Linked DNA regions of Homo sapiens. The gene in region 1 interacts genetically with each later gene. Each region holds a gene or a part of one and is shown in the gene's direction. Other genes may lie near its edges.

Region 1 (4,275 bases):
GTCTCGAACTTCTGGGCTCAAGCAATCCGCCTGCCTCAGCCTTCCAAAGTGAGCCACCATGCTTACCCCTCACCCTTTTTTTTCCACATAGATTTTGTCAATGTGCATGGATTCATTTATCTTGAAATGCTGGGCAACTGCAGCTGTAGATCCTAATCTACAGTACATATCAAACAATTCAGCTTTTTCTTGTAATGTCATGACTTTTCTCTGCTTCTTTGGAGTGCTTCAGGCATCACTAGTGGCACCTCCTATAGGTCCCACGTTACTATTTGAGGTTAATGGTATGACATTACTGAAAAATATGCAGGAACCATGAGTGATCACTTTTACTGTAATATGCAATTTACTGGTGAGACAACTGCTTACAAGATGATCAGCATTACTGTGTTTTAAGCAGATACAACACTTGAGTTCACTGCAATAGGTGGCTACAAAATTGTGACAGTTGTAGTTTGGATTATAATTTTATACAGTTATGTAATATTGCATCTTTACATTTATTTTCATTTCTCTTGACCGCGAATGTCACCATGTACAGTCTGTGTTTCTGTGTGTAAGTTTTGATAAATTTTAACTTTTTTTTTTTGGAGAGGGAGTTTTGCTTTGTCACCCAGGGTGGAGTACAGTGGTGCGATCTCGGCTCACTGCAACCTCTGCCTCCCGGGTTCAAGCGATTCTCCCGTTTCAGCCTGGATTTGTGTATTTTATGGTAGTAAATCATAAAAGACTAGTATCTACATATATTTTATGCATTCATGACATACCTTTTTAATTTTTTCCATATTTCTAGGCTATGTGGTTCATCTGCAAGTTTTTTCAAATTGTTGCAAATCTCCAAAAAAATTTTCAAGTGAACTCGTGCAGTTCAAACTTGTGCTGTGCAAGAGTCAACTGTATTTGCTTATTTTCTCAAAAAGGAATGCCTAAAGGATAATCAAGAAACTAATGAAACTGCCAGATGTGGTGGTGCACACCTGTAGTCCTAGCTACTCAGGAGGCTGAGGTAAGAGGATAGCTTGAGCCCAGGAGTTTGAGGCCATCCTGGGCAGTGTATCAAGACCCCATCTCTAAAAAGAAATACGAATTTTTTTTTAGAGAAGTTAATGAAATTGATCACATGGCCATGCTCAGTGGCTGACACCTGTAATCCCAGCACTTTGGGAGGCCGAGGTGGGAGGATCATTTGAGGTCAGGAGTTCGAGACCAGCTTGGTCAACATGGTGAAACCCCATCCCTACTAAAAATACAAAAAATAGCTGGGCGTGTTGGTTTGTGCCTGTAATCCCAGCTACTCGGGAGGGTGAGGCAGGAAAATCGCTTGAGCCCAGGAGGCAGAGATTGTACTGAGCCAAGATCATGCCATTGCACTGCAGCCTGGGCAACAAGAGCAAAACTCTGTCTCAAAAAAAAAAAAAAAAAAAAAAAAGAAACTGATCACATATCAGTTAGTGTAACCAGTTGGTGTGACCCAGTTTGTGGGTCAGTAAAAATGTTTAGAGTTGATAGGAATAGAAAAAAGATTTTTTTTTTTTTTTTTGGACAGTCTCACTCTGTTGCCCAGGCTGGAGTGCAGTGGCACAATCTCAGCTCACTGCAACCTCCACCTCCCAGGTTCAAGCAGTTCTCCCATCTCAGCTTCCAGAGTAGGTGGAATTACAGGCTTGTGCCACTACGCCTGACTAATTTTTGTATTTTAGTAAAGATGGGGTTTCACCATGTTGGCCAGGCTGGTCTTGAACTCCTGACCTCAAGTGATCCACCTGACTCGGCTTCCCAAAGTGCTAGGATTACAGGCATGAGCCACCACACCCGGCCTAGAAACAAGATTTCTATGTATACTTTTAAAAATAAGCTGTTGGTTTTTTTTTTTTTTTCTGATGGTACATTTGGGAATTATACTGTAACAGGCATAAGAAGTAAGATTTCTCCCATGCGAAATTTTGTATTCAGAATCCAATAGAAATATTTCAGGTTTTTTTTCAAGATGGAGTCTCGCTCTGTTGTCCAGGCTGGAGGGCAGCTGCGTGATCTCGGCTCACTGCAACCTCCGCCTCACAGGTTCAAGCAATTCTCCTGCCTCAGCCTCCTGAGTAGCTGGTATTACAGGCATGCGCCACCATGCCTTGATAATTTTTTTTTTAATGGTGAAAAGATATACATATATTTAGAATTAGCCAACTGGACTCAGTTGAGATGATCCCTATTTTGTTGGCAACATCCAAAGCATTGTAATCAGGAGCCAGTCGAACATGTTCCTTCTCTCCATCAGGCCGAATCAGGGTGTTGACCTTGGCCACATCAGTGTCATAGAGCTTCTCTGGTGCTGTGGCTTAACATTCACAGTGAACACAAGTGCGTGTGTCTTCTGTCTTCTTCATGGAGACTCAGTGGTCAGAGGAAACTTGATGATGCATAGTGGTCAAGCTTGTTTCTCCTGGGGGTGCTCTTAAGATATTTGCACTGCCTCCGGAGTCGCAATGTCTTGGGCCGCCAGAAGGCTAGTGATACGCGGATCTTCTTTTTTTTGTGGCTGTGGACACCTTTCAACACTGCCTTCTTGGCCTTCAGAGCCTTGCTTTGGCTTTAGGAGGGGCAGGAGCTTCCTTCTTAGCTTTTGGTGCCATCTTGTGAAAAGGGGCTGATTTTTGTATTTTTCGTAGAGATAGGGTGTCACCATGTTGGCCAAACTGGTCTCGAACTCCTGACCTCAAATGATCTACCCACCTTGGCTTCCCAAAGTGCTGGGATTACAGGCGTGAGCCACTGCACCCGGCCAATAATTAGAAATATTTCTCTCTCTTTTTTTTTTTTTTTTTTGGGAGACAGAGTCTTGTTCTGTTGCCCAGGCTGGAGTGGCATGATCTTGGCTCACTGCAACCTCCACCTCCTGAGTTCAAGCGATTCTCCTGCCTCAGCCTTCCGAGTAGCTGGAACTACAGGTGCATGCCACCACACCTGGCTAATTTTTGTAATTGTAGTAGAGATGGGGTTTTACCATATTGGTCAGGCTGGTCTCGAACTCCCGACCTCAGGTGATCCGCCTGCCTTGGCCTCCCAAAGTGCTGGGATTATAGGCGTGAGCCACCGAGCCCGGCCCAAATTAGAAATATTTCTAATCAGATATTTCCATGGTTATAGATATTTGGTTGCTTGGTTCATATGCATAGAAACAGTTGTCATAACTGTAAAAAGCAGTACTTAGCAAGTATTTCTAAGTGATTGGAATAGCTTTCCTTTAATGTTACAATACTGCCTATTGATTTGGAAATTAGATCACGCTCTATGATGTTTCGATTTTACTCAAAGGCATCATGAGTACTCTGCTCATTCTTTCATTCTTTATAGTTTTCTAGTTGAGTTAGGAACTATTTTATCAGAAATCATTTTAGCATTATAATAAGGGTAGATGACATACCATAATGATTTTCAGATTTTTTTTTTTTGAGACAGAGTCTTGCTCTGTTGCCCAGGCTGGAGTGCAGTGGCACGATCTCAGCTTACTGCAACCTCCGCCTCCTGGGTTCAAGTGATTCTTCTGCCTCAGCCTCCCGAGTAGCTGGGACTATAGGCATGCGCCACCATGCCCAGCTAATTTTTGTATTTTTAGTAGAGATGGGGTTTCACCATATTGGCCATGCTGGTCTCGAACTCCTGACCTCATGATCCACCCACCTTGTCCTCCCAAAGTGCTGCAATTACAGGTGTGAGCCACTGGTCCCAGCCTGATTTTCAGATTTTTAATAAAAAGGGTATCTGGATTAGCTGGGCATATAGTCCTACCTACTCTGGAGGCTAGCCTATAGTCCTACTTACTCTGGAGGCTAAGGCAGGGGGATCACCTGAGCCTGAGGGATCACTTGAGCCCAGGAGGTTGAACCTGCAGTGAGCTGTGATCCCACCACTACACTCCAGCTGGGCAGCATAGCAAGAATGTCTCTTTAAAAAAAAAAAGGCAATTCAGTTGCAGTGGCTCATGACTGTAATTCCAGCACTTTTGGAGGCTGAGACAGAGGATCATTTGAGCCCAGGAGTTTAAGACCAGCCTGAACAACATAGTGAAACCCCATCTCTAAAAAAAAAAAATTATATTAGCCAAGCATGGTGACATTTGCCTGTAGTGCTAGCTACTGGGGAGGCTGAGGCAGGAGGATTGCTTAAGCTCACAAGGTTGAGGCAGGAGTGAGCTGTGATCACACCACTGCACTCTAGCCTGGGCAACAGAGCAAAATACCCTGTCTCAAAAACAGCAAGAAAAAAAAAGCCAATACCTGG
Region 2 (2,278 bases), on another chromosome or scaffold:
ATCCCATAAGGTATTTGTATTGAATCTCAAAAGGCATTCACATCTCACATCCTCTGTGATAGCCTCCTAATTCACATTTATCAAGGTCCTAAATAAGTATCTAATTACCCTACTGTGGGATGTTGTATATTTCTTCAGATCCGGGCTCGAAATCCAGCATTTCAGCCACAAACTTTGATGGACTTTGGCTCAGGTACTGGTTCTGTCACCTGGTGAGTAACTTTCTTCAGCCCTATCTTGGTCAATTTTAGCTCTAGAAAGCCATACTTACACCACTCCAAAATTAACAGACTGGAAAACCAGAGGGAGAATAGGCAAGTTGGGAATCTATAATGTTTCTTCCATCAGATTAGGCAAGGCAGAAGAAGGTATATGGATTGGGGCCAGAACTTAAAAGAAATGTCAAGTAAAAAAAGGCGCATGTGTAGAAAAATTAAAAAGAAAAGGAATTATCAATCAAAGTTGTTTTTGCCTACAAATAGTATTTTGAGTCTACCTTTTTTTTTTCTTTTTTGAAACGGTGTCTCACTCTGTCGCCCAGGCTGGAGTGCAGTGGCACAATCTCGGCTCACTGCAGCCTCCACTCCTGGGTTCAAGTGATTCTCCTGCCTCACCCTCCCGAGTAGCTGGGACTACAGGTGCACGCCACCACACCCAGCTAATTTTTGTATTTTTAGTAGAGACGGGGTTTCACCATATTGGCCAGGCTGGTCTCTAACTCCTGACCTTGTGATCCGCCCACCTTGGCCTCCCAAAGTGCTGGGATTACAAGCATGAGCCACTGTGCCCAGCTGAGTCTACCTTTTTTTTTTTAGGAGTTGTAAATAAAACAAGAAAATAACACTATTAGTTATTTTATTACTAACTATACAACTACTTTAACATAACACTCTCTTTTCCCAGGGGTGGGGTTGGGTGTAAATGGGCCTCTTGTAGAGATGACTCTTGGTCATGGGAATTGGTGATTTATAATAATTTTGCCATCTTAGGGCTGCTCACAGTATTTGGGGCCAGAGCCTACGTGAATATATGTGTGTGGACAGATCAGCTGCCATGTTGGTTTTGGCAGAAAAACTACTGAAAGGTGAGTGCAAGAGCACTTCCAAAGTTGAGGGAGTTAAGAAAGCAAAGGGGTACTAGTAAAAGTGTTTTACTGGGAAGTAGAGAAGAGGGTAAAAATTAAGATGAATCTGGTTTACTTTTAAAGTTATAGTCAAGCAAAGGGTGGTATTAGAGGTTTCTGCTGGACTGAGGATGGGTTGGGTAAGAATCAAAGGACAGGAGGCCTAATATTCTCCCTGCCCTTTTTTTTTTTTTTTTAATTAGAGGTAGGGTCTCCATATGTTACCCAGGCTGGTCTCAAACTCCTGGCCTCAAGCCATCCTCCCACTTCAGCCTCTAGGGTAGCTGGGATTACAGGCACGCACCGCCATACCTGGCTCATCCCTGCCCTTTTTGATATACACTTTACCTATTCTTGGGGCCATGTTTCTTATCTGGATATCTCTTCAGTTTATACCTAACTTCCTACACACTCACAGTTGCCTCTTCTTTTCTCCACAGGTGGTTCAGAATCTGGGGAGCCTTATATTCCAGGTGTCTTTTTCAGACAGTTTCTACCTGTATCACCCAAGGCAAGTGGCAGTGTTTAGAATATTCTAAATGTGGAATGTGGCAGATGGAAAACTATGGCTTGAGCTTTGCAGCCCAGCACTGAGTGTTAGAAGATAAAAGAAATTTAGCGGCTAGGACTTTGTTGTATTCTTGGGATGTAGAGATGTTGAGTCTGTCATGTTCCTTGTCTTGGTCCTCAGGTGCAGTTTGATGTAGTAGTGTCAGCTTTTTCCTTAAGTGAACTGCCCAGCAAGGCTGACCGCACTGAGGTAGTTCAAACCTTATGGCGTAAGACAGGTCATTTCCTGGTGAGTTAAAATTCCTTGTTCTCCTTAAGTCTTGAAGCAGCTTCATGGATTTCATGCCTTTGCTCCTCTCATTGTCTTTATTCTTCACCATTTTTCTCCTTCATGGGTTTCTTTATCCCTCTTTGAGGGTCTCCATCCTGATTATGTAATGCCTATTTCTTTTTAGGACTCCTTCTCCCTCTATGATTGCTCTTACACAGCTACTGACATTTATACTTTCGTGTAATTCAAGTCTTCTGCATATTTTCCCCTTTTGTGAACAGGTACTGGTGGAGAATGGAACAAAAGCTGGGCACAGCCTTCTCATGGATGCCAGGGATCTGGTCCTTAAGGTAAGGCTTCTTCTTCCCTCACTC
Region 3 (3,465 bases), on another chromosome or scaffold:
CAACTTAGTAGAAGATAAATTTGAGTTGTAGTGTTTCTGTAGTTGAGAATGAGTGAATGGAAACCTGTAGAAGCAAAGCAGTTAGGAGAAAATCATCTAGAGAAATGTTAGCCTTGAGAGTGAGTTCCACAACCACTTAGCTGTAGTGGTTGAAGGAGGAAAGAATCCTACCTCCAAATTACAACTTTACAAGAAACAGAACTACTAACCTTGAGAAACCATTATTTATGCCATTTATCAGCCCAAACTGAAAATTTAGTGCTCAAAGCTGGCACTATTGTATAACACAAGTTGCAGCATAAATTGTTAAAACCCTGTTGAAGGGCCGGGCATGGTGGCTCATGCCTGTAATCCCAGCACTTTGGGAGGCCGAGGTGGGAGGATCATGAGGTCAGGAGATCAAGATTATCCTGGCCAACATGGTGAAACACTGTCTCTACTAAAAATACAGAAATTAGCTGGGAATGGTGGCACATGCCTGTAATCCCAGCTACTCGGGAGGCTGAGGCAGGAGAATCGCTTGAACCCAGGAATCAGAGGTTACAGTGAGGTGAGATCGCGCCACTGTACTCCAGCCTGGTGACAGAGCGAGACTCCGTCTCAAAACAAAACAAACAAAAAAACCTTGTTGAAAATCATTCATTCATTGAAGAAGTATCTATTAATTACCTTCTCTGTGTCAAGTGTTTGGTAACTGAGCAAATATATAGCTTTTTTAGGAAGCAGTTTAGAACACAGTTTGTTAGTCTTGAAAGTATTCACAAACATTTCCATTTTTGAGAATTTTTCTTTCTTTTTTTTTTTTTGAGACAGAGTTTCACTCTTGTTGCCCAGGCTGGAGTGCCGTGGTGCGATCTCGGCTCACTGTAAGCCCCGCTTTCTGGTTTCAAGCGATTCTCCTGCCTCAGCCTCCTGAGTAGCTGGGATTACAGGCACCTGCCACCACGCCCGGCTAATTTTTGTATTTTTAGTAGAGACAGGGTTTCACCATGTTGGCCAGGCTGGTCTCAAACTCCTGACCTCGTGATCCACCCGTCTCAGCCTCCCAAAGTGTTGGAATTACAGGAGCCACCCTGCCCGGCCAAGAATTTTTCTGATAGAAATCCCTAGGAAGGAAAAAAGTAACATGCCCAAGAATATTCATTGTATCACAATATAATAACAGGACATTTGGAATAGCTTAGGTGTCCAGGAGTAGGGAACTTGATAAGTATATTCTAGTGTATTGATTTGATGAAATAGGATACAGCCATTAAATAATTATGAAGATTGGAGAAGAACGTACAGAATCAACAGGGAGAAGTGGAAATTACATACATGTAACGTTGAACTATATGAAGTTGCTAATACATGGACAAAAAGACCTGAAGAGAATGTGAGAAAGTATAAAATGGTTGATTATGGTAATGGGATTAGGATTTTTTTTTTCTTTCTTGTATCTGGTATTCTTTTTTTTTAAATTTATTTTTTTGGAGATAAGAGTCTTGCTCTGTCACCCAAGCCAGAGTGCAGTGGCATGATCTTGGCTCACTGCAGCCTCCACCTCCTGGGTTCAAGCGATTCTCCTGGCTTAGCCTCCTGAGTAGTTGGAACTACAGGCGCACGCCACCATGCTCGGCTAATTTTTTGTATTTTTAGTGGATATGGGGTTTCACCATGTTGGCCAGGCTGGTCTTGAACTCCTGAGCTCAGGCAACCTGCCTGCCTCAGTCTCCCAAAGTGCTAGGTTTACAGGTGTGAGCCACCACGCTTGGCCCTGTATCTGGTATTGCTAAAATGCTTGGGTAACATATTTTCCTTTAAAATCTTCAAGGACTGACAGGATAGATCACATCCACATCACTCTACATTGATTCACCTGGAAGCTTTTGTATTACAGGGCCATTATGGTAGTGAGTGCACAATTGCAGTCCACTCAAATATTCATTAAGTTAAAATCTTTTTTTCTTATGAAACTTTATGAAACATTTCACACATGCACAAAAATAGAATACATAAACACTCATCATCAACTATGATACCATTGTCACACCAAAAAAATTAGCAGTAATTCTTTGATATCACCTAATAACCTGACTATTTTCTCCACTGTGGCTTTAGATATGTTGGCTATACTGTTAGCTGACCTCATAGTTAAATCAGGATAATAACCATCCCAGTTTTACTGGGACTTGGGGCTTTCAGTGCTACATGCAGGCAAACCAAAACAGTTGGTCAGCCTACTGTCAGCAGCAGACTGCAAGGTCAGTGTGGTTGTTTTAAGTGTATCTTCCTCACCATCCAAGTGTGCACTCCCAAAATTCACACTCAGTCAGAGGAAGAATTGTTTATTAATTAGATCTGGGAGTTGATGCTAAGGGAATTTCACAAACAATGAAGTTAAGACAAGTTCCTCCCTTTAGTGAGCTCACTGTTTCAAGTGGAGGATCAAGACCATTAGAAATAAACAAAGTCGAAGCCAGGTATGGTGGTTCACGCCTGTAATCCCAGCACTTTGGGAGGCCAAGGTGGGTGGATCACCTGAGGTCAGGAGTTCGAGACCAGCCTGACCAACATGGAGAAACATCTACTAAAAATACAAAAATTAGCCGGGTGTGTTGGTGCATGCCTGTAATCCCAGCTACTCAGGAGGCTGAGTCAGGAGAATCGCTTGAACCCGGGATGCGTGGAGTTTGCAGTGAGCTGAGATCGCACCATTGCCCTCCAGCCTGGGCAACAAGAATGAAACTCCATCTCAAAAAAAAAAAAAAAAAAAGAAAGAAAGTCAGAGGTTAAGTGGTGTGGATGATCCAGAGGGAGGAGTTGAGAAAGTCAGGGTAGGGTCAGAGTAATTGAATACTCAGAAACATCAAATTGAGCCTTAAAAGATTGGGTAAAATTTCTAAATTTTAACCGATACATACTATAGCTAGGACTTTTAAACTTCCTCATTATAACACAAATTTTGGGATAAGAAAACGTGTGTAAAAGGCCATTTGGGCTGGATGCAGTGGCTCACTTTGGGAAGCCAAGCTGGTAGGATTGCTTGAGGCCAGGAGTTAGAGATTAGCCTGGGCAACATAGCAAGACCTCATACAAAAAAGTTTTGGTCTTTTTTTTTGGAGACGGAGTCTCACTCTGTTGCCCAGGCTGGAGTGCAGTGGTGTGATCTCCGCTCACTGCAAGCTCCACCTCCCAGGTTCACGCCATTCTCCTGTCTCAGCCTCCCGAGTAGCTGGGACTACAGGTACCTGCCACCATGCCTGGCTAATTTTTTGTATTTTTAGTAGAGACGGGGTTTCACCGTGTTAGCCAGGATGTTCTCAATCTCCTGACCTCGTGAGACCTCATACAAAAAATTTACAAATTAGTAGGTAGGGCCAGGCACAGTGGCTCATGCCTGTAATCCCAGCACTTAGGGAGGCCAAGGCAGGGGGATTGCTTGACCAGGAGTTTAAGACCAGCTTGAGAAACACAGGGATACCC

The links. A genetic interaction does not mean that the proteins touch.
Region 2: changes in CENATAC (region 1) and METTL17 together harm fitness more than expected from each alone (negative genetic interaction), as found in Homo sapiens cells (one large-scale study listed by BioGRID).
Region 3: changes in CENATAC (region 1) and PDCD7 together harm fitness more than expected from each alone (negative genetic interaction), as found in Homo sapiens cells (one large-scale study listed by BioGRID).

Annotation. Positions count from the first base shown.
Region 1 is NC_000011.10:119,000,820-119,005,094, forward strand, and holds part of CENATAC (centrosomal AT-AC splicing factor), read left to right. Parts: intron 1-793; exon of another isoform or gene 794-1,006; intron 1,007-2,133; exon of another isoform or gene 2,134-2,774; intron 2,775-4,275. UniProt on the Homo sapiens protein: Component of the minor spliceosome that promotes splicing of a specific, rare minor intron subtype. Negative regulator of centrosome duplication.
Region 2 is NC_000014.9:20,992,980-20,995,257, forward strand, and holds part of METTL17 (ribosome assembly protein METTL17, mitochondrial isoform 2 precursor), read left to right. Parts: intron 1-138; coding exon 139-212; intron 213-989; coding exon 990-1,084; intron 1,085-1,563; coding exon 1,564-1,634; intron 1,635-1,814; coding exon 1,815-1,922; intron 1,923-2,185; coding exon 2,186-2,254; intron 2,255-2,278. UniProt on the Homo sapiens protein: Mitochondrial ribosome (mitoribosome) assembly factor. Binds at the interface of the head and body domains of the mitochondrial small ribosomal subunit (mt-SSU), occluding the mRNA channel and preventing compaction of the head domain towards the body.
Region 3 is NC_000015.10:65,120,344-65,123,808, reverse strand, and holds part of PDCD7 (programmed cell death protein 7), read left to right. Parts: intron 1-3,465. UniProt on the Homo sapiens protein: Promotes apoptosis when overexpressed.